Linked DNA regions of Homo sapiens. The protein of the gene in region 7 interacts with the protein of the main gene of each other region in a pairwise test. Each region holds a gene or a part of one and is shown on either strand. Other genes may lie near its edges.

Region 1 (3,500 bases), on a different chromosome or scaffold from region 7:
TTTATACTATTCTTTCTAGCCCAATTAAAAGGCCTTTACATTTTCCACATTCCCAGATTTTAGCTTCCTTGAGTGATATTCCACATGAAAATGGGGAGGTATGTCACAATGGCAGACTTTAAAAATTATTACATAAACTTGAAAAGCACTTATGAATCTGTTATTTAGAATTTAGAACACGTTATTCCACAGGGAGGAAACCATAAACCTGAATTGGTACTTACACTGCACATATATTAATCTACAGTGTTATAATTAAACACAACATGCATATGCATAACTGAGTGCCTTCAGCATTTTCATATAAGATAGAACATTTACCTTGTAATTACTCCTAATGTACCTTAATGACACTGGATAAAAAAACTAAAACTTCAAATTCCACATCTGCTACTTGTATAAGACTACAAGGTAACCTCCTCCTGGAGGTTAAGTAGTGGAAAGAGAATTACCAAACTCTGTCACTTAACTTACCCCAGCAAGAATAGAATATTTTCAGCCCTCTAATCTTCCACATTAAGCTCTCTATTTTAATTTGTAAATTAGAAAATTAGAGATAAACCGTATATGTATCTTAACCCTGTTGGGAGTACAGAGCTCTTTGGCAGACATTTATATTTTTTCTAATCAGTTCCTCAATGACGATTACAATATGAGCTTCATATTCTCACTTGGGAAATTTTCATTAATTTGTTTTCATATAATTTGAAAACAAATACTTAGCTGTCTTCTTAGGAATAAACTGCCAACATTCAGAACAATGTATAATCTCCAACTCTAATCAAATTTTGAATCACAGATTCGTAAAACTGATAGCATCTGGTACAAGTGCCTCATTCTTAACAAAAAATTAAATGAATTAAGCCATATTCCAAAGCTAGTCAGTAGAACTAGGCCTAGAACCTAGATTCTGATTCTCTTTTCAGAGCTTTTGCTGCCATCCTTTACTACCAATTTAACCAAACCATATAACCTGGCCATTATTTATCAGCAATAAGACATTGATGAAATCAAAAGTTATACATACATCTCATCTGTGAAACGGAGCTAAAGGTACCTGCCTTTGAGGGGCCTGGGTGATTAAACTTGTTTGTATGACAAAGTACTCTGTAAAATGAAAAGCGCCATATACAATTATACATCATTTCTAACTACTTGGGGAAAGTAAAATGTGGCCATAAACCAATCACAAAGCTGTTTATCTAAGACTAGCCTCAACCTATGATTAAACAACTGCGGCAAAAGTCAAGTGACTGCACATTAGTGCTTCAGTTAGTAATAAAGGTATTAACAGATAAAAGTTATTACAGAAAAAATGTATTCTGACTAAACCAAAAGATGATTTAATTGTATATCTACATTCTTTATTCTTAAGAGCTGCCTTTTTAGCTTAACAAACGTGAATTAAAAGGTAATAAACAATGCCAAAAATATGGCATCTTCCTCTTAAGGAGACAATACACAAAATATTGGGAGGGCTACTGAGAAATTACTGACAAGGCTCTTCCACTCTAAAAGAAAAACAGTGAATGAAATGGCTCTTTGCTGTCTGGCCACACTTTAACGTTGTGGTGATAACTCAGAAAAGAAGTCCAGGGATATTTCTCAATACCCAGAGACAAAAAGCAGGGCTCATGACTATAGGGATACATGTAATAATACCATCTTAAATAGTTAGAGCATTTTAAACATTTTACCTTTCCTAAAGATTACATCTCATGAGATCTTTGTAATACTTTTATTAAGTAAATAAGGAATAGTCTGATACTCTAAGCTGAAAATCATCAAAATTAAAAACAAGCACAATATTATGTAGCATTTTCCTTATCTTTTATAATGAGGTCCATTTATGTTTATAAAACAAAAAGGTTCCATCAACTCAAATTAACTAGTTTATTTCTAGATTTTGATAACGATATTTCAAAGACAAAAAATCAACCCAAAGGTAAATAATGAACATCCTCTGGCCACTGCATACTACTGAGTTGGTTATCAAAAAAACAGTTTATCTATTTTGTAATTAATTTCCTGGCCATAAATTGCAAACTTTTTGATAATGTCCTTATGAATTTTTAAAATTAAATTTCAGTGTATGTATTTCCATACATATCCCTTTACCTCAGGGGGTAGTCTCTTTCTGTATCTTATTTTTTTCTTTTCTCACTTAGGGTCAACTTTCAGTTGACCTTCAGTATTCTCTGAAGTGTCTGCTCACAATTTAAAACTCTTATAAAAATTTTTTTTGGAGATAAGTAGTCCAGCTTGTTTTAAATTACTATCATTTTAAATCTGTGACACAAGGATAATTATGTAAAATGAAGATTTTTAAGAGATATAAATCTTTTAAGGAAAATAACTAAAAACAAATAGAAATCTTAACTAAAAATCTTATTTATACTAATAAAAATGCATTTAAATTGAGGCATTAAATAAAATCAGGTTTTACACCTTAAATCAAGGTAAATGACTTGTCAACTAATACATCACTTTAAATTTCACCTTAAAAATCAATCCAGTTAATGAACTGCATATCAAGAAGTATACATTTTATTGTTTATAAATTTAAAAAATTAACCTAGTTAAGAACAAATTGTTATTACAAAGCTATGTTTCTTTAAATAAATGGCAAATTTATCATTTTGGTAAATTTACTACCATTATAATACTTAATGTAGTTAGGATATCTTTCCACAATAACTTTAGGTAACTTTACTGCCATTTAATCATCCACAATCAGACTTCAAAATCAAGCTATTAAAATGAATGGGAATATGAACAACTTTTCTAATATGTATACATTCTCAAAAGAATCACTTATGTGATTGTTGTTTTAAGGAAAACTCAAATACTAAAACTTTGAGGCTTCAATTCCAGTCATTTTGGGCATTTCAACCTGAAAATAACAGATTAGAAATTAACTCTTAAATTTAGTACAAGCACAAGATACAATTTTGGTTTTTCAAAATGTCCATCAGAAAATAAGTATTTAACTTATATATATACATAGAAATATTTATTGAAATCTTACAAATTTCTATAAAGCCCCAAGAGGTCTCATATAAATAACACTGAGAATCTTCATTTTTATATCTAGACATACCATTATGAATATGGAAATGAAACTGCCATTTATCATAGAAGAATAGGAGCTGTTTTTGTAACTATTTATTATCCTTGCCATCAAATTTAGACCTAAGAGGCACTAAACATTGAAAGACAGGTACTAAGAACAAGTCAGAGATATACAATCTTTTACTTTAGAGGAACAGAGTCTCATGCTCCATTATTCATTTCTAACTAGACAGAATTCTGTGATTAGCCCTTAATTCAAGATGTTACAGATCAGCAAAACAGAATTAAGTCTGATTTTTGTTAAAAAAAAAAAATGCAGTCATTTTAGATACCAAAACTTCATCTAAAATGTGGAAAGGTGAATTTAGGTAACAGTGTCAACAATGTAAATTATAAACATTAGTCAGCTTATTTAAGACCAATCAATG
Region 2 (2,599 bases), on a different chromosome or scaffold from region 7:
TAAATTTTATAAAGTAATATGTGTACATAAGAGACAAATAGTTCCACAAGGCTTACAGTGAAAAACTGCAGTCCTCTATCCCACCATCCCAACCCTGGGGTCTCACTCTCCAAAAAGAAATGCTTTGAGCACTTGAGCTGTCTTCTGGTACTTACCTCCTCATTGCTACAAAACATGCTCATATTACTATTTCCTCATTTTTTTCCATTACAGACATTTTCTCTAGGCTTCCTAATATGGAGATAAGGAATTAACCTCCTCCTATCCTCTTCTATACTTACATTGCAATTTCTCATTATAGCAGCAGGTTTTAGAAATAATTGTACCTACATAAACAATTTTGCAACTGAGGATCTTAGTACATTATTATTATATATTTTCTTGTACAACTTTTTTTTTTCTGGAATAATTACATCTTTTTGTCTGTTCACTTGGTTTCCCAGGAATCCACCAATACCAGAGCCTCAAATTCTCTGATAGGACTCTATTATGCCTCTCAGTATCATTATGTACATGGAGTGCTATTTTTCATTGAGTGTTTTTTTTTTCTTTTTGAGAAAGCATTTCCCTCTGTCACCCAGGCTGGAGTGCAACGGCATGATCACAGATCACTAGCCTCAATCTGCTGAGCTCACTTCAGCCCTGCAAGTAGCTGGGACTATAGGCACACACCACCACACCTGGCTAATTTTTAATTTTTTTGTAGAAATGGGGTCTTGAGATGTTGGCCAGATGTTTTTTTTTTTTTAAATGATTTGTTCTCTATTATTTTCTCTTTCTGGAACTTCTAATAGTTTGAATTTTTAACGATTATACTTTCTTATATTTTCATTTTTTTTTGTTCTAACTTCTAGAGATTACCTTTGTTTTATTTTCCAGTCTTTCAATTAAAATTTTAATTTTGGTTATCATGTTTACAATTTCCAAATACAGTAATTTCCTGTTTGCATAGCATTCTGTTCTTGTTTCATAGTTATAATTGTTTCTTACCTCTGAGAATTTTATGTTATTTAAATTTTTTTTTCTGTTTCCTGCATTATCTCTATTTCCTTCAAATTCCCTTTAATTTTCTGCTTTTTCATTTCATGCTAGAGGCTTTCTTTTAATGTCTGGTAACTTAGAGTAGTCCATTCATATTTAAAAATGAAGTGCTAACAAGTGAGTTGGAAGCACTATGTGTATGTGGGCAGGGATGGTCAACTGGTGAGCCTCACTCTGAGAGACTTGGCCACTTCACTGGGGTCCTCTAAATGTCAGAAATTATAGATCCTTTCTCTCGGGCTGGTCAGCTTCCTCAGGAAAGAACTATCTATCTTTTTCTGTGAGCAGTAGGGTGATATAAGCCTCGAAGCCCCAAGAGGGAAGATGGAGCAGGAGGTAAATCTTCTCATTAAGCCATGTAGATTTTCACTTACTTCCCTGTTTTCAGTAAGATGCCGCATTCCCACACTCAGACTTAGTGGCCCCCATGCTAGAGACTCTTACTTAACCTTGCCAGAGAGTAAAACTCCTGTTTTCTGCAGGGGAGGGCAGGGCAGGCCTCCCAGCTTTGAGGGCTGAGGGAGATTTGAAGGCTGAAGACTTCATATGGTCTTTAAACATGTTTTCAGTTCAACCCAGAATTAAAGAGCTACCTGGTACCCCAATGTCTGAGCTATTCTGGAGTTCTAAGGCACAAATATTCTTGCTGGCTTCCCTACTTCAGCAACGTGAAAATCACAGAAACAAAGGCAGTTACCTCTCACCTATCACAATCCACTTTCCAAAATGTGGTTGATATCTCTTTTCTGCTATACTATTGTTTCTGTGGTTTGTATCTTCAGTTTTTTTTTTTTTTCCTGTAGGGTCATTTTAACAAGATTTTTGGAGGAAATGGATGGAGATAAACATGTGTGTTCATGCTACCATCTTTAATTAGAGATGTATCAATAGCGATCTTTAAAAAGCTTTCAATTTCTATATGGCTATTCATGAATTTTAAGAGAACAAATATTTAAGATTTGGGTAGGTTTAAGAAATGATATGACTCCTCAAAACAGCATTAATTATATCCTCATTTAAGAAATATATTAAACTTACTTTTGAGGCCAATAGGTTAAACCTAAAGAGTTTAGCCAAGATTCAGGAATAAAGGCCCACACGAGGTAAAGTACTGTAGAAAAGAAAAAGAAAAAAAAGAGGAAGAGAAGTCAGTAAGACATACATCTAATCTATCAATCTATTAAGATTCAGATAAAACAGAAAAGCTCTTTTGAAGTGTCCCTGATTAACTCAGAAATGATTTTTTCCTCCTTTCAGTTCTTCTAGCTCGTTTGCACAATTCTTATAATACTTATAATTACTGTATTAGTCTTTTTTTTTAATATCTTAACTCACATTATATTTTAAGCAATTCAAGGATACAAATCATGGCTTAGCAATTGTTGTAATCCTTATTACCTAGCAGTTTGCTTTAGGTACAGTAAGTGTTCAATACTTCATCCCCACAAGGTTGAAGTAATTATAGACATTTAATTGCTCAAAGGGAAATTTACCTACCCTAGTTCTCATCCACCACATACTGAGCTTCTGCCCTATCTCCCAGAGTACAATGTTATTT
Region 3 (4,257 bases), on a different chromosome or scaffold from region 7:
CTGGGCTGGAGACAGGGGAAATGGAAATCCCAAAGGGGAATTCCTGTCCCCCAATGCTAGCTATGCCCTCTACCCCCACTGTCCTGCACCAGGGCCAGAACCTCAGCCCACGGACTTCTACCATCCTCCTTTCTCCAGCCCCAGGGTACCAGAGGGCCTGTGGGAAATCCACCCACACTCCTCCAGGCCATCCCCAGGATTCCGGGGACTCACCAGCCTTGATCAGAGGATCCCCGTTCCTGTATCCTCCAGGCACCGCCTCCTAGCCTGGAGACCAAGCAGAACCCTCTGCCTCCCTCCCCTTACTTCCTCACCCCCTCCAGCTCTTCCTCTCCTTTCCTCTCACTGAGGTCTCATCACCCTTCCCCTTTCCTGCCCACCCCCAACTCCCGCTCGGGGACACAAAGATCCCATTGATTTCTGTCCCAACAGCACCTGCTAAGACTGAGCTCTGCCCAGCTCCCAATACGGAGTGGTGAGGATTGAGGACAGCAGAGCCCTATGGATCCCAAAGGCCACACTCACCCTCCATATCCCACCTCCTCCTCGGGGACTCTACCAACCCTTGCTTTGGGGAGCAGTGCTTTTCCCTAGGAAAGGGGGTGTACAGCCGGACAACAGGCCAATGCCCCCGACTCTTCTCCCTGCACAATGCTCCTGCTCCTGTCCCTCTATTTCTACCTAACTCCCCTGCCCAATGGCGGGAGGCCCCAGACACTGCAGGCATGGTGGGGGCCAGGAACCTCGTTGGCTGGAGCATGTTTCCTGGTGATCCTGAGGCAGCGGGTGAGTGAGAACCTGGCGGGGGTCCCTATCACTGGGGCTGGCTGCTGGAGGCTGGGCTGGAGTGGGCACCATGTTGACGCCAAACATTTGCATATGCACTGGGCAGTGGCAACGAGGATGAAACATACACGCATGCACACACAATGCTGGGAGCAAACTGTGGACTAGGGACAAGCATCTCGAGCGCCATGAATACTAGATACCCTGTGACTATGGGTGAATGGAGCCCTGACAGACAGGCAGTGTACAAGACACGCCCACCCCCTCACATACCTGACTGTGGGAGGCGTGCATGGCAGAGCAGCCCAAGCTCACACCCCTCTCCCGGAGAGGGTGCTTGTGTTTGTGCTCACACGTAGGTGACAGATGGCGCCAGCAGTCTCCAAATGGGGAGCAGCGGTTGGGATAGATGGGGGTGGGGGTGTCATGAGAAGGGATGGCATCCACAGTGGGACCCTGTCCTTGGCAGCTAAGCGAGAGCTGGGAGCTAGACATGGAGATGAGTAGCTCTCTGGGTGTGGGTGTGCAGGTGTGCATGTGAGTGTAGTGACAGGGACAGTGAGTGAGAGAGGGAGTGTGCAGGAAACTGTGTCCCCCAGCAGTGCGTGTGCGTGTGTGCGTGTGCATGTGTGCATGCACCCGTGCTGGGGCAGCAGTGAGGGTGAGTTATGCACATAAGAGTGAACCAGTGATTCCCAGTGTAAGAGCCAGAGCTGGGCATGGGAGCCGCTAGAACAGGAGACAGAGGGGGACTGGACCCCAGGAGGGCTGGAGGGCAGAATGAAAGAGGGATGTGTGAGGGAGTCTGTGAGGCAGGCATGTGAGAGACACACAGAGATCCAGAAGAGACACTGGCACCCAGTGTCCTGAAGACCGGGTCTCTCCAGCCTGCCCACCAGGCCAGCTCCCCAGGAGGCCACCCGGGGTCCTTCCCTAGATGGAGCCCCCCAAACCTCCCCTCCCTATCTCCTTCGTTTGGTGGGAAGAATCCAGTAGCCTCAGAAGAAAAAGGGAGCAAGAGAAAAGTGAGAGTCAGTTGGTCTGGCCTTGGGATGGTGCGTGCGTTCCCTGCAAGCCAGCCAGCTCCAGGACACCTGGGCCCATGCCTAGGAACCCCCACCCCAACTCCCAGACCTGGGCACTGCAGCAGCAGCAAAACCAAGAAGAGGAGCAGCAGGCGCCCCAGGGTAAGCCCCTATGAGCGGCCACTGCTCCATGGCTGGGAAGCCAGAGGGAGACGCCAGGCTTGGGGAAACACGAGGCCAGCCTCTGGTGGTGGAATGAAGGGAAGCCCTGTTGAGGATGCCCCTGTACACCACTGCCACCACTCCTCCCCACTCCCCAGCCTCCGGCCATCCAAGGCCAGGCAGCCCAGCTGGCAGAACTCACCACAGAGAAGTTGCTGGCGGAGCAGTGATGCCCACTGAAGTTGCAGCTCTTAAGCATGTCGGCGAGCTGGTGGCCAGTGCGGTTGAGGATGTCTACCATGTCAGGCTCTGGGTAGCGCAGGCCAGCCGCACGGTGCCCATCCCGGTCTTTGGGGGGCAGCCCTGTCAGATTGGCCAGGTGGAAGATGTCGGCATCGCTGAGTGCCGAATGCCGGAAGCGGTTGATATTGCAGAGGGTGACAGCCGGGAAGCCCGCCACTGGGGCTGGGGCAGCGGGGTCCATTGCCACCAGGTGAGGCCGGGTCAGGTAGCCCCGGGCCAGGCCAGCCGCCTGGTACAGGAAGGCAGCCAGCGAGGTGAGTAGGGCCAGTGCCCACAGGGTTCTGCGCAGTCCGTGGGGGCCTGGGCCACAGGCCCGGCCCAGTCCATGCAGGGTGCTGGTGCTGGCAAAGGTGGCCAGGTCTCGGGGGGCTGCTCCAGGGGCAACAGCCCCGAGGAGGCTCTGCTCATCCCCTGCCTCCTTCTCCTTGGGTTTCGCATCCTCCTCAGCAAATTTGATTTTGCACACAATCTCGATCGGCATCTGTCCCCGGCTGCTGGGACTGGCCAGAGCCTCCCTGCCCTGTCCCTCCCTAGCCAGCAGCCCTGGTGCCCTCCCGAGTGGCAGTGGTGGCAGCGGCTGCTCTTCTAAACTCAGGGCAAGCGGGAAGAGGACAGGGACAGGGTGGGGGCCCGAGGTGGGGGAGTCACTCCCACTCCCAGCAGCTCCGCAGCCCTGGTGCTGCCTCTGCCGCTGCTGCCTCTGCTGCCGCTTGTCTCTCTCCTCGATCGTCTCCTTGTGGCTTCCCTTATCAGCACCAGCACAGCTGTCAGCCCCTGCGTGTGTCCCTGCGAGCGAGCGAGTGAGCGAGGGAGCGAGCGCTGCTCCGCCACGCCGCGCAGCCCCAGCCGCTCCGCTCAGCATGTGCTCCGGAGCCCTCCCCACGCTTAATAATTCAGGACATGTCAACAGCGTTTCACCGGCAGCACGGGCGTCAGGAGCCAGGCCAGGGGAGGGGGCAGTCCCCAGCCCAGGACAGAGATCCCAAGACTGGGGCTATCCCCCAAACTCCTGCTGCACCCTAGCCGCTCACTGGGTCCCCAGATCTCCCCACTTCCTGGCCACCCAGGGAAGGGTGCCGTGCCCAGGGTCCTCAGCTCATTCTTTGCCACTTTCCTGGCCCACACCCCATGAAGGGTCAGCCAACTCTATCCCCCCACCTCCTGGCCTCTGAGACTCCTGACTCCAGCACCCAGCCACCACCTGATCCCACTACCCGACTCACAGCAGCTTCCAGAAACTCCTTGAGAGAGCCACTTGTTTGAATGACGGAGGGAGGGGGGCAGAGGAGGGCAGGCTAGACAGACCAGGGGACAACTGTGACTTCAAGATTCTCAGCTTCCCTGGAGCTTTGCTCCAGACTTCAACACCCACCATGCCCCTGCCCCCTCTGGGAGGCTGGCTGCCCTCACCCTCATTTTGCCCCCAACCCCAATCTCAGTCATTCATATGTCTGGGACAGACAGCACCCTGGCCAGCTTGCATATCTGTGGCCACTTTGCTTCCCCAAATGTTCCCCAAATCCCTTGCCACAACCAGGCTTCGGGGGAGGGCTGTTGGGTAAGCAAGCCAGGGAGCAAAGGGGAGGTGTGCTTCCGGGGTGCTCTATATGTAGGGGGACAGGGCATGCAATGGAGGGAGAGGAAGAGCCCCAGTGGGGGCGTGGAAGGGAGCAGGAAGATGTGCTGGGCGTCAATGGGAGCGAATGCTCTCCTAAAGAAAGGGGTTTGAGGGGTGCCTGGCAGAGTGGGGCAGGAGAGCCCTAAGGGGTCTGCTGTGTTCTCGTGGAGGGGAACAGGCATGTGGGCCATCATCATAGGTGGGGGTGGGAGCCTCAGTTGACTGGCCAGGAGGGGATGCATCCATGCCCCCAGGGTGGGGGTGGCAAGAATCAGTGCTTGTGCTCTGGGGCCCCATCCGACAGCATGTGCCCTCACGGGGGAGGAAGCCCTTGTCCCCGGGAGGAAAGGGGGGCTGATTAAT
Region 4 (2,280 bases), on a different chromosome or scaffold from region 7:
TGCCCACCTCAGCTTCCCAAAGTGCTGGGATTACAGGTGTGAGCCACTGACCTTGCAATAATTTTCAGTCAGTCTTTATACATTAAGACTACCTTGCTTCGTTTGAGACAGGGTCTTGCTCTGTCACCCAGGCTGGCGTGCAGTGTCACAATCATAGCTTATGGTGGCCTTGAACTCCTGGACACAAGTGATCCTCCTGCCTCAGCCTCTCAAAGCACTGGGATTACAGACGTGAGCCACCACACCTAGCAACACTACCTTTTGATATGTTGCAAATATTTTTTCTGAATTGGGCAGGAATCTTTTACACAATTTAATTCCTTACAAGTAGAGAAGTAAGAACATTAACTCTGGAGCTGGACTATTGGGTTCAAAACCTGACTGACAACTTTCTATAAAAAAGCTGACACTTTCAGCTATAAAACTCTGGCAAGTTATGTTATTTAACTGGTGTCTGTTACATGTCCACATATGAGAAAAACAGTAACCGCCTCCTGAGGTTTTTGTGAGGACCAAATAATTTTTATTCACATACATCTAGTTCATCTACCTAAAGTGTTCAGAACAATGTTCAGCACATATTAAGCTTGATATAACTGTTACCTATGATGATGACGATGATGATGATAATGATAACTGTACAGTCACTGTCTTTCTGAAGTTGTTTGGTGATCAAGAATGTGTTTAGAACTATCTCTTTATTAGACAAAGTCATAAACCAAAAATTTCCAACTTCCTGTACATGTTGAAAGCTTTAAATAAGGATCCTTGGATACAAAATATGGTCCACATGGCTGAAAATTAATTCTATGACACAATATTATTCTAAAGTCATCCTTATTTTGAAAGCCTAAAGATTTTCTTTTATGGCTATAAAAATACCACCAAGCTAGACATTTTAATTCTGTTGAGATATACAAATAGAATTACCACAGCAGCCTACACCTTCTATGATTTCTAAACACTTAAACATCAATGGTTTTGGGAAGATGCTGTTGTCCTTCAAAGTTCATTAAAAGTTCAGATGCCTTTTGTGAAAGCCCAACTTTTCTTCTACCTGCTAAATTGTCTTTTCAGAAGTCTTGCCGGATGTTTTCTTTGTTTGCCTCTCCATGTTGCTGCTTAATTTGATAGATTTCATTTTCTAGCTGAACAATAGTCCGTTCAATCTCATAATTCTTACTGACCAGGGATACCCAACTAGAATGGGGGGGAAGAAAAGAAAAAAATTACTCAATGTAAAACTTCTCTTAGAAGATTTTATTTTAAATGTATACACATGTTCACCCAGAGCTATAACACTAACCTTCACTTTTTTTTTTTTTTTGAGACGGAGTCTCGCTCTTGTTGCCCAGGCTGGAGAACAATGGCGCAACCTCAGCTCACTGCAACCTCCGCCTCCCGGGTTCAAGGGATTCTCCTGACTCAGCCTCCCGAGTAGCTGGATTACAGGCACACGCCACCACAGCTGGCTACTTTTTTGTATTTTTAGTAGAGATGGGGTTTCACCACGTTGGCCAGGCTGGTCTCAAACTCCTGACCCCAGGTGATCCACCCACCTCGGTCTCCTAATGTGCTGGGATTACAGGCATGAGCTACCATGCCTGGCCTAACCTTCACTTTCAACTTTCCATTAAAAAAAAATCAAGGCACAATTGTGGAAAAGTAGGTAAAGGGTACATGGAATCTCTCTGTATTCTTTTTTTTTTTTTTTTTTTTTTTTCCAGAGACAGGGTCTTGCTCTGTTGCCTAGGCTGAAATGCAGTGGTGTGATCACAGCTCACTAGCCTGGAACTCCTGAGCTCAAGCAATCCTCCAACCTCAGCCTCCTGAAGAGCTTAGACTACAGGTGCATGCCATCATGCCTGGCTCATTTAAAAGCATTTTTTTGTAGAGACAGGGTCTCGTTATGTTGCCCAGGCTGGCTTGAACTCCTGGCTTCAAGCAATCCTCCTACCTTGGCCTACCAAGGCACTAGGATTACAATGTGAGTCACCACACCTGGCTCTCTGTATTATTTCTTACAATTGCATGTGAATCTATAATTATCTAAAAATAAAAGTTTAATAAAAAAGCAAATTAGAAACAGATGAGAGAACTTGCAAACCAGAAGAAAGAGGAAAGAGTGATGAAGATAGTATTTAATCAACAAAAAGGAAAGAGGCAATAGTTTATTAAATTGAGGAAAAAGCGTGAAAGGGTACCAACGAGACTGGTAAGACGTACATGGAGACGGTGGAACAAGAATGACTTGAGTAATGAAGGGAGAAAGGGAATGGC
Region 5 (3,500 bases), on a different chromosome or scaffold from region 7:
GCCACTTTTCCCCTGCTAGTCCTCTGTTTGACTATGTCACATGCTGCTCTACCTTCCTTGTTACTAGAGATTACTTGAGACTCATTCTTCAAGGTCGGGGCCTTGGGAAATTATCCTTGTGAATGAGATAACCTGTTGGTAGGTGCTTTAACAGTGAAGTTCTGTAGCGCTGTGGTACCCTGCTGCTGTTCTCTGTGTGTGACTCTGCTTCTGCATTCGGGATGTGAAATCCCTGGCATAGGCCCAACCCTACCCATAGAGTGTAGCTATTAATGTCACCTCTCAAGGAACACATGTTTATTTCAACAGGTGTCTTTTGAAGAACATTTTCTTGAAATATTTAGCCCTCTCGTCCTGGCTCATTCCTGCATATTCTTTAGTTGTTAGCTTAGCTGCATTTTTACTGGGACATCTTCCTTGCTTTTCCACCTCTCAGCACTGTTCCTCCTGTGTGCTGTCAGAGGACTGTGTGTGTACTTCCGTTTCCTGGCTGGTAGTTGCCTTTTTACTTGTTTGTATCCCCACTGAAGACAGTATCTTGAGAGCTGGCACTGTCTTTCACCTCTATAGCCATCCTATGTAGCACACAGTTTTACACTGGCTAGGAACTCAGTAAATATTTTATGAATACATGTTTTAGTGTTAATGACAATTTCAAGTGCTATATTAGACCAGTTAGGTGTATTTTTTAAAAATTCCTTGCAAAGGCTTCACAAAGGCTTAGAGGCCATTTAAATATCTATATATAAAGGTACAATATGTAATATCTGTTTATCAATATATAAAAACAGATGTGTGTTTGTGTGTTTCAACGGGGAAATGAGGAATTGCTGGTAGAGCAAATGTAGGATGAGGAAATTGGAAGGAGCGAGGGCCAGGGTTAGAAATTTCCTTACTAGAGGTGTCCTGCGTATTTGACTCGAGCTTTCTAGCGGCAAATCAAGGTCAGTGAGGATTGTTGTTGTTTTTGGTAGGCAGGTTTTTTAGCACTCCTCAGTTTATATATATCTGAGAGGCTATCTCTTGTTACATAAAATTTTGGTGTTAAAGCTCACTGTTTTTCAGACTTCTGTCATCCTAGGACAGTCTTATTGTTAGTTGGGGAAGGTGTCACTGATGACGGTTTTCTAAAGCTACCTGTAGCGATGGTAGTATTATAAGGTGATAATAAGTGACAATTACTGTTAGTATTTTGAGACCACTGAAGCTTATGTATTTATTTGTCTCTGATTTTAGTTTACTACAGTCAGCATGTGCCAGGCACTGTGTTAGACACCTGAGAGTCTTCTTTAGCTTCAAGGTGCTTACTGAGTAGTAGGGGCAAACACATAAAAAAATATAATTTTATACAACATGATTTATAAATAAAGAAGATATATGCCTTGTACCTTAGGAGCCTCAGGGTTTGAGGAAGTTTTCCAAGAGGGTTATTCTTAGCCAGTAGAAAAAAAGTGAGGAAGATGTTCTGTCACGTCAGAGATGTGGTAGCCTGGAATGGCATGGTACCCATGGAGTGAGCAAAGATGGGAGGTGTGAAAGGCGTGGTATGTATCGGCATTCCAGCAGCACACTTACCAAGGGTTGAAAGCGTGTAGGGGAGCAGCGAGAGACATACTTGAAGACACTGCCAAGGTCGAAGAATGCTTGTTCTAGATACCATCTTAGGGATAATGAAAAAGTTCAGAAAGGGCTTTAAATGGCAGTAGCGTAGATGGATTCATAGGGGCAAGATTAGAAGCTGGGAGACCATGGATATTAGGCAAGAAATTATGAGTATTTGTTGGCAAGATACAGTGCTATTAATTGGAAAGAGTTATTTAGGAGATTAGCAAATAATTACACATTGGGTGACATGGTTGGGAGACAGCTCAGTGCAGAGATAAGAGAAAGAAGTATTGGTGAATTGCATGGTTTTGCCCCAGGCAACTGGGTGGACGGTGGAACTGTAAATTGAGAATGATTACAATAATGCTAACATTTAAGGGGTATTTAGTATGTTCCAAGCACTGTGCTGTATGCTTTACACAAAGTAACTTATTCCTCATAATAACCTGTGAAGTCGGTAAACTATTACCCCCATTTTATAGATGGGGAAGCTGAGACCTGGAGACAAAACGGAAGTCCCACTTAGCTAAGATTCTAAACCAGACATTCTGACTCCAGAACCCAGCGCATAGACTCTATATTACGGCAATATTATAGCCCATACCATTGTCAATAATAGTATGAAATTTGACATCTCCTAATCAACTTTATATCTCACACATATGGAGTGATGACAAATAATGCCTTAGGTCACCACATTAGTTGGAGAAATGTAGCATTAAATTACCGTCTCTTATAATAAATTACCATCAAATAATGAATTTGTGCCAAGTACAAGAGCACTGAATTTCCCAACAATAGATTTATAAATAACAATTGGAGGAAAGTTTAGAAGTAGGCAGTATTTTGAAAATTTGGCAGTTGCTTTTTATATTGCTTGTTTTACATTTTTAATACAAATGTAGGGGGAATTCTCAGCATCTTAGTACTTCTCTTCACATAGCTAACCTAGTGTCTTACAGTGGAAACGCATGTATTCCGTTGGAAACAGGAAGACAGGAAGTAGAGGCAGTGGATAAAGACAACCCTTTGAAGAATTTTTTTCTTTCTTTTTTTAATGGGAGCAGTGCACAAGTGCAGGGACTTGAGATGGGAGTACTGGCAGCGGAGCGGTGGGAGCGGTAGGGAAGCTCAGTACGTGAGGGGTGCAGCTGCAGAGAGTTGATCAGTGTGGTGTTGGAGCGTGTGCTTCCGTATTTTCAAGGAAATAAAAGAAATGAGGTTATGAGGCCTTCCCTTCCACTAGTCCTTTGGGACCGTTCTTGTCAAGAACCCTGGTGATGCCCATACTGCTAGACTCCCGGTCAGTTCACCATTCTCCTCCTCCTCCATTTGACAGTTCGTGATTCCCTCCTCTTTTCTGAAATGCTTTCTTCACTTGCTGGTGACCATTCTCTTTTCCCTTCTGCCTCACCGCCACTTCTTCTCAGCCTCATTTGCCTCTTGCCTCTTTATCTTCTGGACTTCAAGGTCCAGTGCACAGTAGATGGACTGCCTTTTTCTCTGTTTGCAGCCGCTCCCCAGGGGACCTCATGAAGCCCGGTGATTCTGAATGCCGTGGATCTGCCGAGGATTCCCAGATGCGTATTTCTCCTCCGTACTTCCCCACAGGACAGCAGGCTTGAATAGCTGATTGCCTATGCAGGACAACAGGCTTGAATAGCTGACTGCCTATGCATTCTCTTTGCTTGCCAGTTTTTTGGACATCAAACTTGACAGATCCAAGATTATTACTTTGATCTTCCCCACACCCCTCCCACCCCCGAGTCTACTATGGTCCCATCATAGTATTCTGAAAATCAGTGAATGGCCACTCTACCAGTTATTTCTACCAGTTTTTAGGTTCTAAACCTCAGGCATTCTGGACTCTTCTGTTCATTATCATATTTTGAAGG
Region 6 (3,500 bases), on a different chromosome or scaffold from region 7:
TTAAACACATACACTTCAATCTATGACCTCTCCCAGCATCAATAATTAATCAGTATCTAAAAAATTCCTGCCACTCTTCCTTCTTCCTTGCATCCCAACACTGAAAAGACTTCTATGATGTTTTTATTTTTCTCCTTCTGCCCAAACTACCTAAGTGTATTAGAGATATCTGTGTGGCATCCACATTATTTCAAGCATATTTAGGCTGCTCTTAGGTGTTACTATTGTGTAAGTCACTGCTCGATTTCTTCTGTGAACTTCCCTTCCCATCAATAAAGGTTTGTCTTGGTAATGATGAACGGGCAGGAAGTTTACAGGCTTTACTTTATGTAGTCAATGTCAAATAGAGGGAATCTGAATGCCATCAAAAGTATCTTTTTAGTATCTCTTTAGTACAGAAAATAGAATTCTGGCTGGTGACAAAGACTCATGCCTGTAATCCCAGCATTTCAGGAGGCCAAGGCAAGAAGATCATTTAAGCCCAGAAGTTTGAGACCAGCCTGGGCAACATGGCAAATCCCTGTCTCTACAAAAAATACAAAAACCTAGCTGGGTGTGTGGTGCATGCCTGTAATACTAGCTACTCAGGAGGCTGAGGTGAGAGGATCACCTGAGTCCAGGAGGTCAAGGCTGCAGGATGCTGTGATTGCGCCATGAGACTCTAGCCTGGACGGCAGTGAGAGCCTGTCTCAAAAAAAAAAGAAAAAGAAAAAGAAAATTAGAATTCCTAATAAGAAAATTTGACCATCTGAGGGTCAAATTCAGGTCTTCTCCCAAAAATGCTTCCTAAAAAATTTTAAAAGATGTGTGACATTTTCACAAGTAACTGCCATACATTTTGGTTTTGAAAACAATTCCAGACATTTAACAGAACATTAACAGTTAAGCAATTTGGCCAGGCATGGTGGCTCACGCCTGTAATCCCAGCACTTTGGGAGGCCGAGGCTGTTGGATCACCTAAGGTCAGGAGTTTGAGACCAAACTGGCCAACATGGTGAAACCTTGTCTCTACTAAAAATACAAAAATTACCCAGGCGTGGTGGTGGTGCATGCCTGTAATCCCAGCTACTCAGGAGGCTGAGGCAGGAGAATTGATTGAACCCGGGAGGCGGAGGTTGTAGTGAGCTGAGATCACGCCACTGCACTCCAGCCCGGGTGACAGAGTGAGACTCGGTCTCAAAAACAAACAAACAAAAAAATCGTTAAGCAATTCGAATTTCTTGACTCTATTTAGGCAAGTAAATATATAAAATATCTCTACATTTGATATAAATCATAAATATAAAATATCTCGACATTTGATATAAGATCATAAATATGATATATTTAGGAATAAAAAGAGAAAACTTTCCAATGGCTTCCAAAGTCTGCAAGATTCTCCAAGGTCTGGTCTCTTCCTCCTTCAAACTCTTCTTCCACTCTCCCGCTCTCTCAAACTCAACTACACAAGCCTTCATTCTGTTCTTTAAACTTACCCGTGTCTTTACAATTGCTCTAATTTCAATGTCATTCAGATTTCAGCTCAAATGTCAATTCCTCCTAGAGATGTTTCCTGACCACCATATTTAATGTTGTTACTACCCTCTCCAACATTCCCAATATCCTGATGAACATCGATGCAAAAATCCTCAATAAAATACTGGCAAACCAAATGCAGCAGCACATCAGAAAGCTCATCCACCATGATCAAGTGGGCTTCATCCCTGGGATGCAAGGCTGGTTCAACATACGCAAATCAGTAAGTGTAATCCAGCATATAAACAGAACCAAAGACAAAAACCACATGATTATCTCAATAGATGCAGAAAAGGCCTTGGACAAAATTCAACAGCACTTCATGCTAAAAACTCTCAATAAATTAGGTACTGATGGGGCATATCTCAAAATAGTAAGAGCTATTTATGACAAACCCACAGCCAATATCATACTGAATGGACAAAAACCGGAAGCATTCCCTTTGAAAACTGGCACAAGACAGGGATGCCCTCTCTCACCACTCCTATTCAACATAGTGTTGGAAGTTCTGGCCAGGGAAATCAGGCAGGAGAAAGAAATAAAGGGTATTCAATTAGGAAAAGAGGAAGTCAAATTGTCCCTGTTTGCAGATGACGTGATTGTATATCTAGAAAACCCCATCGTCTCAGCCCAAAATCTCCTTAAGCTGATAAGCAACTTCAGCAAAGTCTCAGGATACAAAATCAATGTGCAAAAATCACAAGCATTCTTATACACCAACAACAGACGAACAGAGAGCCAAATCATGAGTGAACTCCCATTCACAATTGCTTCAATGAGAATAAAATACCTAGGAATCCAACTTACAAGGGATATGAAGGGCCTCTTCAAGGAGAACTACAAACGACTGCTCAACGAAATAAAAGAGGATACAAACAAATGGAAGAACATTCCATGCTCATGGATAGGAAGAATCAATATTGTGAAAATGGCCATACTGCCCAAGGTAATTTATAGATTCAATGCCATTCCCATCAGGAATGACTTTCTTCACAGAAATGACTTTCTTCACAGAATTGGAAAAAACTACTTTAAAGTTCATAAGGAACCAAAAAAGAGCCCACATTGCCAAGTCAATCCTAAGCCAAGAGAACAAAGCTGGAGGCATCACGCTACCTGACTTCAAACTATACTACAAGGCTACAGTAACCAAAACAGCATGGTACTGGTACCAAAACAGAGATATAGACCAATGGAACAGAACAGAGCCCTCAGAAATAATTCCATCATTCCCTATCACATTATCCTGTTTTATTTCTTCAGAGAATTTATCACTATTTCTCACTATCCTACTTGTTTCATTTATCATCTGCCTCCCTCACTAAAATATATGCTCTTTGAGACCAGAAACCTCTCTCTTGTTGGCCACTATATTCGTACTTGCCAAGAGAGTCAATAAATATGTTAGAAAAATGAAGAAACACATAAAACTTTAGTTAGCACCATTACATTGTAGATAGCAGAATTTTCCTGTTATTTTAATATCAGTATCTGGCAAATATAAATTATCAGGAGTGATCTATTATTATATACATATAATTCTTTAACTATATTTAGAGTTAATACTGTTTTTTCCCCTTCAGGTATAATAAAGACTCTGAAAAAACTCTAGGACTTAAATCAAAGGTTTTTTTTTCTCCCAGGAAAATATAATTTCATAACCACCTAACAACTATAGAGACTATTAAAAAGCTTAGGAGTTCATTTTCAGTTGTAGAGACTTGAAAACATCACTATGAAATAAAAACGCTGAAACCAATCTTTGAGATTATAACAAAAATTACAAAATGAAATTAATAACTTTTCTAATGCTGAGATTCTCCATAAAGTTATACAAACTCTTGTCTTTCCAAAGAAAATCTGAATCCATTAGTGTTTTATTTCCTGAGCAGAATATACAAGATAGATTAACTGAAAGAAAGGCAACAATGGTTTAAAAAAAAAAGTACTTAAATGATAAATAAATGATAGGCTCAAGTTAAAAT
Region 7 (3,500 bases):
TAAAGTAACATTTATTATAGACTAATAGAATTTTTTTAAATCTGATAAAATTCCTCCTTTAGAACAAAATTTAAAGATTTGGGTTACAGTTTTAAATCTACTAAAGCAAAAGGTCTAAAGTGCACTACCATTTCAAAAATGGTGTAATTTAAATGGTTTACTTAAAAAAATCCTGTTACTATGCATGAAATCAAAATAAAAATGAAAATGTTGATAATTCCAATTAAACTCTATTCTACACAGTTGATAATTTATCTAGACTCAGGTTTCGCTGCTTGAATTTTAAAGGTATTTTGGACCACATACACTCCAAGATTAAAGAGTTTAATTACATTTGCTCAGTTAGTTAGAAAAGATGTACTTACCTTGAACATTTCACTTAAATACATTTTTAAAACTAACGTTATTATGAGAGTCAAAATATTCAGGCTGGGTGCAGTGGCTCATGCCCATAAATCCTAGCACTTTGGGAGGCCGAGGAGGGAGGATTGCCTGAATTTAGTAGTTCGAGACCAGCCTGTGCAACATGGCAAAACCCTGTCTCTACTAAAAATACAAAAAATTAGCCAGGCATGGTGGCACGTGCCTGTAGTCCCAGCTATTCAGGAGGCTGAGGCATGAGAATCACTTGAACCCAGGAGGTGGAGGTTGCAGTGAACCAAGATCATGCCACTGAACTCCAGCCTGGGCGACAGAGCAAGAGTCTGTCTCAAAAAAAAAAAAAAAAAAGCGAGAGTCAGTCTAAATATTCAGTGATAAATCATTTTATTTACACTATTTAATAAACACAAACAGTTCCCTGTATTTAAAAGGGAGAAATGCTGTAAGCCGGTTTTTAATGCAGTGGCCAATAAACACTTAAAACAGATAAAATTAAGGTAGTACAAAATCATTTGCTACTAAGAATGCTTATTTTCTTTTTTTTTGAGATGGAATCTTGCTCTGTTGCCCAGGCTGGAGTGCAGTGGTGTGATCTCGGCTCACTGCAACCTCCACCTCCTGGGTTCAAGCGATTCTCCTGCCTCAGCCTCCCAGGTAGCTGGGACTACAAGTGCCCGCCACCATACCCGGCTAATTTTTGTAATTTTAGTAGAGACGGGGTTTCACCATATTGGCCAGGCTGGTCTTGAACTCCTGACTTTGTGATTCGCCCGCCTCGGCCTCCCAAAGTGCTGGGATTACAGGTGTAAGCCACTGTGCCTGACTAAGAATGCCTATTTTCTATAGTGCTATTTATAGTAGTAAAGAAATAGAAACCACCTAAATATCCAACAGAAAATGGGTTAAACAATGTACAACCATACAACAAACTCCTATGTTAACTATTAAAAATGATATTCAGGAAATATGTGTATTAACATAGAAAGTTATTCACAATGCACTGCTTAAAAAAAAGTTATAATAACAGACTACAGCGTACTTGGATCTTTTTTAAAAGAACAGGTATTATCAATCGTTATGTCTGGGTATGTTATGGATTATAGTAGTTTTCATCTTTTCACTTATATGTAATTTTAGCTATTTCTGTATCAAGCATGGACACATTTGTCCCCAGATGAACAAATACTTGGGTCTACATATCCAGGTAGATAAATGGGTAATGAAAACTTACCTTTACATTTTCATGAATAGACTGAAGTTGTGCCGCTAAAGCTACAAATGTTTGATAAATTTTCTGCATAGCCATTGACAAATCTATAAAAGAAAATTACATTATCACCCAAATATATACATATATATAGCACAATCCATTTTATTTTTCTATTTGAGTCCAATTTTTGGCACAGTTAACGTGTAGGAGAAAAAAACTCTATCAACGTTCTCATGGCCAGAGAACACACAGAGTAGCAGACTGAATGTCTACAAAAGAAATCTGGGGGGAAGGCCCTAAGATTTCTGTCCTTGTTACCACAGTAACAATTCATATAATAAAGCATATTATATTTATAGGGAATAAAGGAGTAGTAAATGACTTTTAAGGAAATTTTCTTAAAGGGGCTACCAGTAGTTATCCAAAATACCTATTATATAACCACATCTATCTCCTACAAACAAAAGTTCAAAAAAAATTACCACAGTAAGCATGTTACCTTGAGGGGTTATATGTGAATTATTTGCTTGAGTGGCAAGATGGTTTTCTAGTTCTTCAATCTGCTGCCTGTACTGCTGAAGCTGTACCTCAAATTGCTGAACCAAGATTCTGAAGTAGCTTTAAAAAACATTTAAAAAGTCAGATCAAATATTTTTTTAATTTGGAGTGACAAATCCAAATTAAGGAATATTCTGCAATCATTTAATAGTCTTCAAAAGTATCAAGGTTATCCAAGGAAAGGAAGGACTGAATAACTGTGACTGGAAGATATTAAGGAGAAATTACAAATGCACTGTGAATCCCAAATAGGATGCTGAAACAGAAGTACACTAGTGGAAAAACTGGTTGAATTTCAGTAAGTTTAGTAGTTTAGTTAATAATATTGTAACAATTTTAGTTTCCTGTTCTTGGTAATTATACTATAGTTATAAGTTAACATTAGGGGAAGCAAGGGAAGCGATATAAATAAATTCTCTGTACTACTATTTTGGAAGTTTTCTGTAAGGTTAAAATAAATTTAAAATAAAGTAGAAACGTCTACCAACCAGATTTCAGAATTAAGAATTTATAGTCATTTTATCAATGAAATTTATAATCTGAGAACACCATAGTATACTACAGAAAGCACATGTAATTATTGCTACTTTTCTAATAAATTTACCCACAGAGAGTGCTAGACAGATAAAAAAAAAAAAAGAAGGTATCTTGAATAGTATACAGAGGAATCTGAATGTCTTTCAGTAAACAATGGGCAACCATGAATGCATTTTGCAAAATTAGCTCTGATGGCAGTATTAAGTACAAGACAGAGGGATAAAATAGTAGAGGAAGTCCAGTGAGGAAGCACATCTCATGCCAACCTGAGTAAGACGAATATCATGGGCATTATGAATTTCCTGATTTTGAGAACTGTTAAGTATGAGAATATCCTTATTTTTAAGAAATATCCACTGAAGTACTTTAGCATAGTGAACATTATTTCTGCAAATAACCCAAACTGTTTGGGGGAGAAATGTATATACACACATAGAATGTGAGGAACAAAAATATGGTAAAAATGTTAATATGTAGGAAATTGGAATGAAAGGCATACAGGAATTTTTAGTTCTCATCTTGAAACTTTTCTGTAGACCAAAATTATAATAAAAAACTAAAAGAATAAAATAAGTAAGGGGCCAGGCGTGGTGGCTCACATCTGTAATCCCAGCACTTTAGGAGTCTGAGGCGGGAGAATCACTTTAGCCTAGGACCAGCCTAGGCAACACTGTGAAATGGCATCTCTACAAGTTAATTAATTAATTGTGAGGGACCAGGAATCAAACAGACCTCCACCACTCAACTCACTTTTGCATACCTCAGTCTCTTTATCGCTAAAACTGGAATAACAACAGCTACAGAGATCTTGTGA

The links.
Region 1: the proteins of NUP58 (region 7) and ARHGAP29 interact in binary tests that used the Homo sapiens proteins (3 or more experiments, as listed by UniProt).
Region 2: the proteins of NUP58 (region 7) and PIGP interact in binary tests that used the Homo sapiens proteins (3 or more experiments, as listed by UniProt).
Region 3: the proteins of NUP58 (region 7) and ASIC4 interact in binary tests that used the Homo sapiens proteins (3 or more experiments, as listed by UniProt).
Region 4: the proteins of NUP58 (region 7) and BCAS2 interact in binary tests that used the Homo sapiens proteins (3 or more experiments, as listed by UniProt).
Region 5: the proteins of NUP58 (region 7) and STAM interact in binary tests that used the Homo sapiens proteins (3 or more experiments, as listed by UniProt).
Region 6: the proteins of NUP58 (region 7) and AKAP9 interact in binary tests that used the Homo sapiens proteins (3 or more experiments, as listed by UniProt).

What each region holds. Positions count from the first base shown.
Region 1 is NC_000001.11:94,227,585-94,231,084, forward strand, and holds part of ARHGAP29 (rho GTPase-activating protein 29), read right to left. Parts: intron 1-3,500. UniProt on the Homo sapiens protein: GTPase activator for the Rho-type GTPases by converting them to an inactive GDP-bound state. Has strong activity toward RHOA, and weaker activity toward RAC1 and CDC42. May act as a specific effector of RAP2A to regulate Rho.
Region 2 is NC_000021.9:37,067,473-37,070,071, forward strand, and holds part of PIGP (phosphatidylinositol N-acetylglucosaminyltransferase subunit P), read right to left. Parts: intron 2,153-2,599; coding exon 2,080-2,152; intron 1-2,079. UniProt on the Homo sapiens protein: Part of the glycosylphosphatidylinositol-N-acetylglucosaminyltransferase (GPI-GnT) complex that catalyzes the transfer of N-acetylglucosamine from UDP-N-acetylglucosamine to phosphatidylinositol and participates in the first step of GPI biosynthesis.
Region 3 is NC_000002.12:219,513,225-219,517,481, reverse strand, and holds the start of ASIC4 (acid-sensing ion channel 4), read right to left. Parts: upstream 2,758-4,257; coding exon 2,176-2,757; intron 787-2,175; exon of another isoform or gene 396-786; intron 278-395; exon of another isoform or gene 214-277; intron 1-213. UniProt on the Homo sapiens protein: Does not exhibit measurable stand-alone pH-gated sodium channel activity but may form pH-gated heterotrimeric sodium channels. Its activity could also depend on alternative gating mechanisms.
Region 4 is NC_000001.11:114,567,057-114,569,336, forward strand, and holds the end of BCAS2 (pre-mRNA-splicing factor SPF27), read right to left. Parts: intron 1,201-2,280; coding exon 1,074-1,200; 3' UTR 501-1,073; downstream 1-500. UniProt on the Homo sapiens protein: Required for pre-mRNA splicing as component of the activated spliceosome. Component of the PRP19-CDC5L complex that forms an integral part of the spliceosome and is required for activating pre-mRNA splicing.
Region 5 is NC_000010.11:17,710,151-17,713,650, forward strand, and holds part of STAM (signal transducing adapter molecule 1), read left to right. Parts: intron 1-3,118; coding exon of another isoform or gene 3,119-3,230; exon of another isoform or gene 3,231-3,500. UniProt on the Homo sapiens protein: Involved in intracellular signal transduction mediated by cytokines and growth factors. Upon IL-2 and GM-CSL stimulation, it plays a role in signaling leading to DNA synthesis and MYC induction. May also play a role in T-cell development.
Region 6 is NC_000007.14:92,003,362-92,006,861, reverse strand, and holds part of AKAP9 (A-kinase anchor protein 9), read right to left. Parts: intron 1-3,500. UniProt on the Homo sapiens protein: Scaffolding protein that assembles several protein kinases and phosphatases on the centrosome and Golgi apparatus. Required to maintain the integrity of the Golgi apparatus. Required for microtubule nucleation at the cis-side of the Golgi apparatus.
Region 7 is NC_000013.11:25,325,625-25,329,124, reverse strand, and holds part of NUP58 (nucleoporin p58/p45), read right to left. Parts: intron 2,210-3,500; coding exon 2,091-2,209; intron 1,696-2,090; coding exon 1,613-1,695; intron 1-1,612. UniProt on the Homo sapiens protein: Component of the nuclear pore complex, a complex required for the trafficking across the nuclear membrane.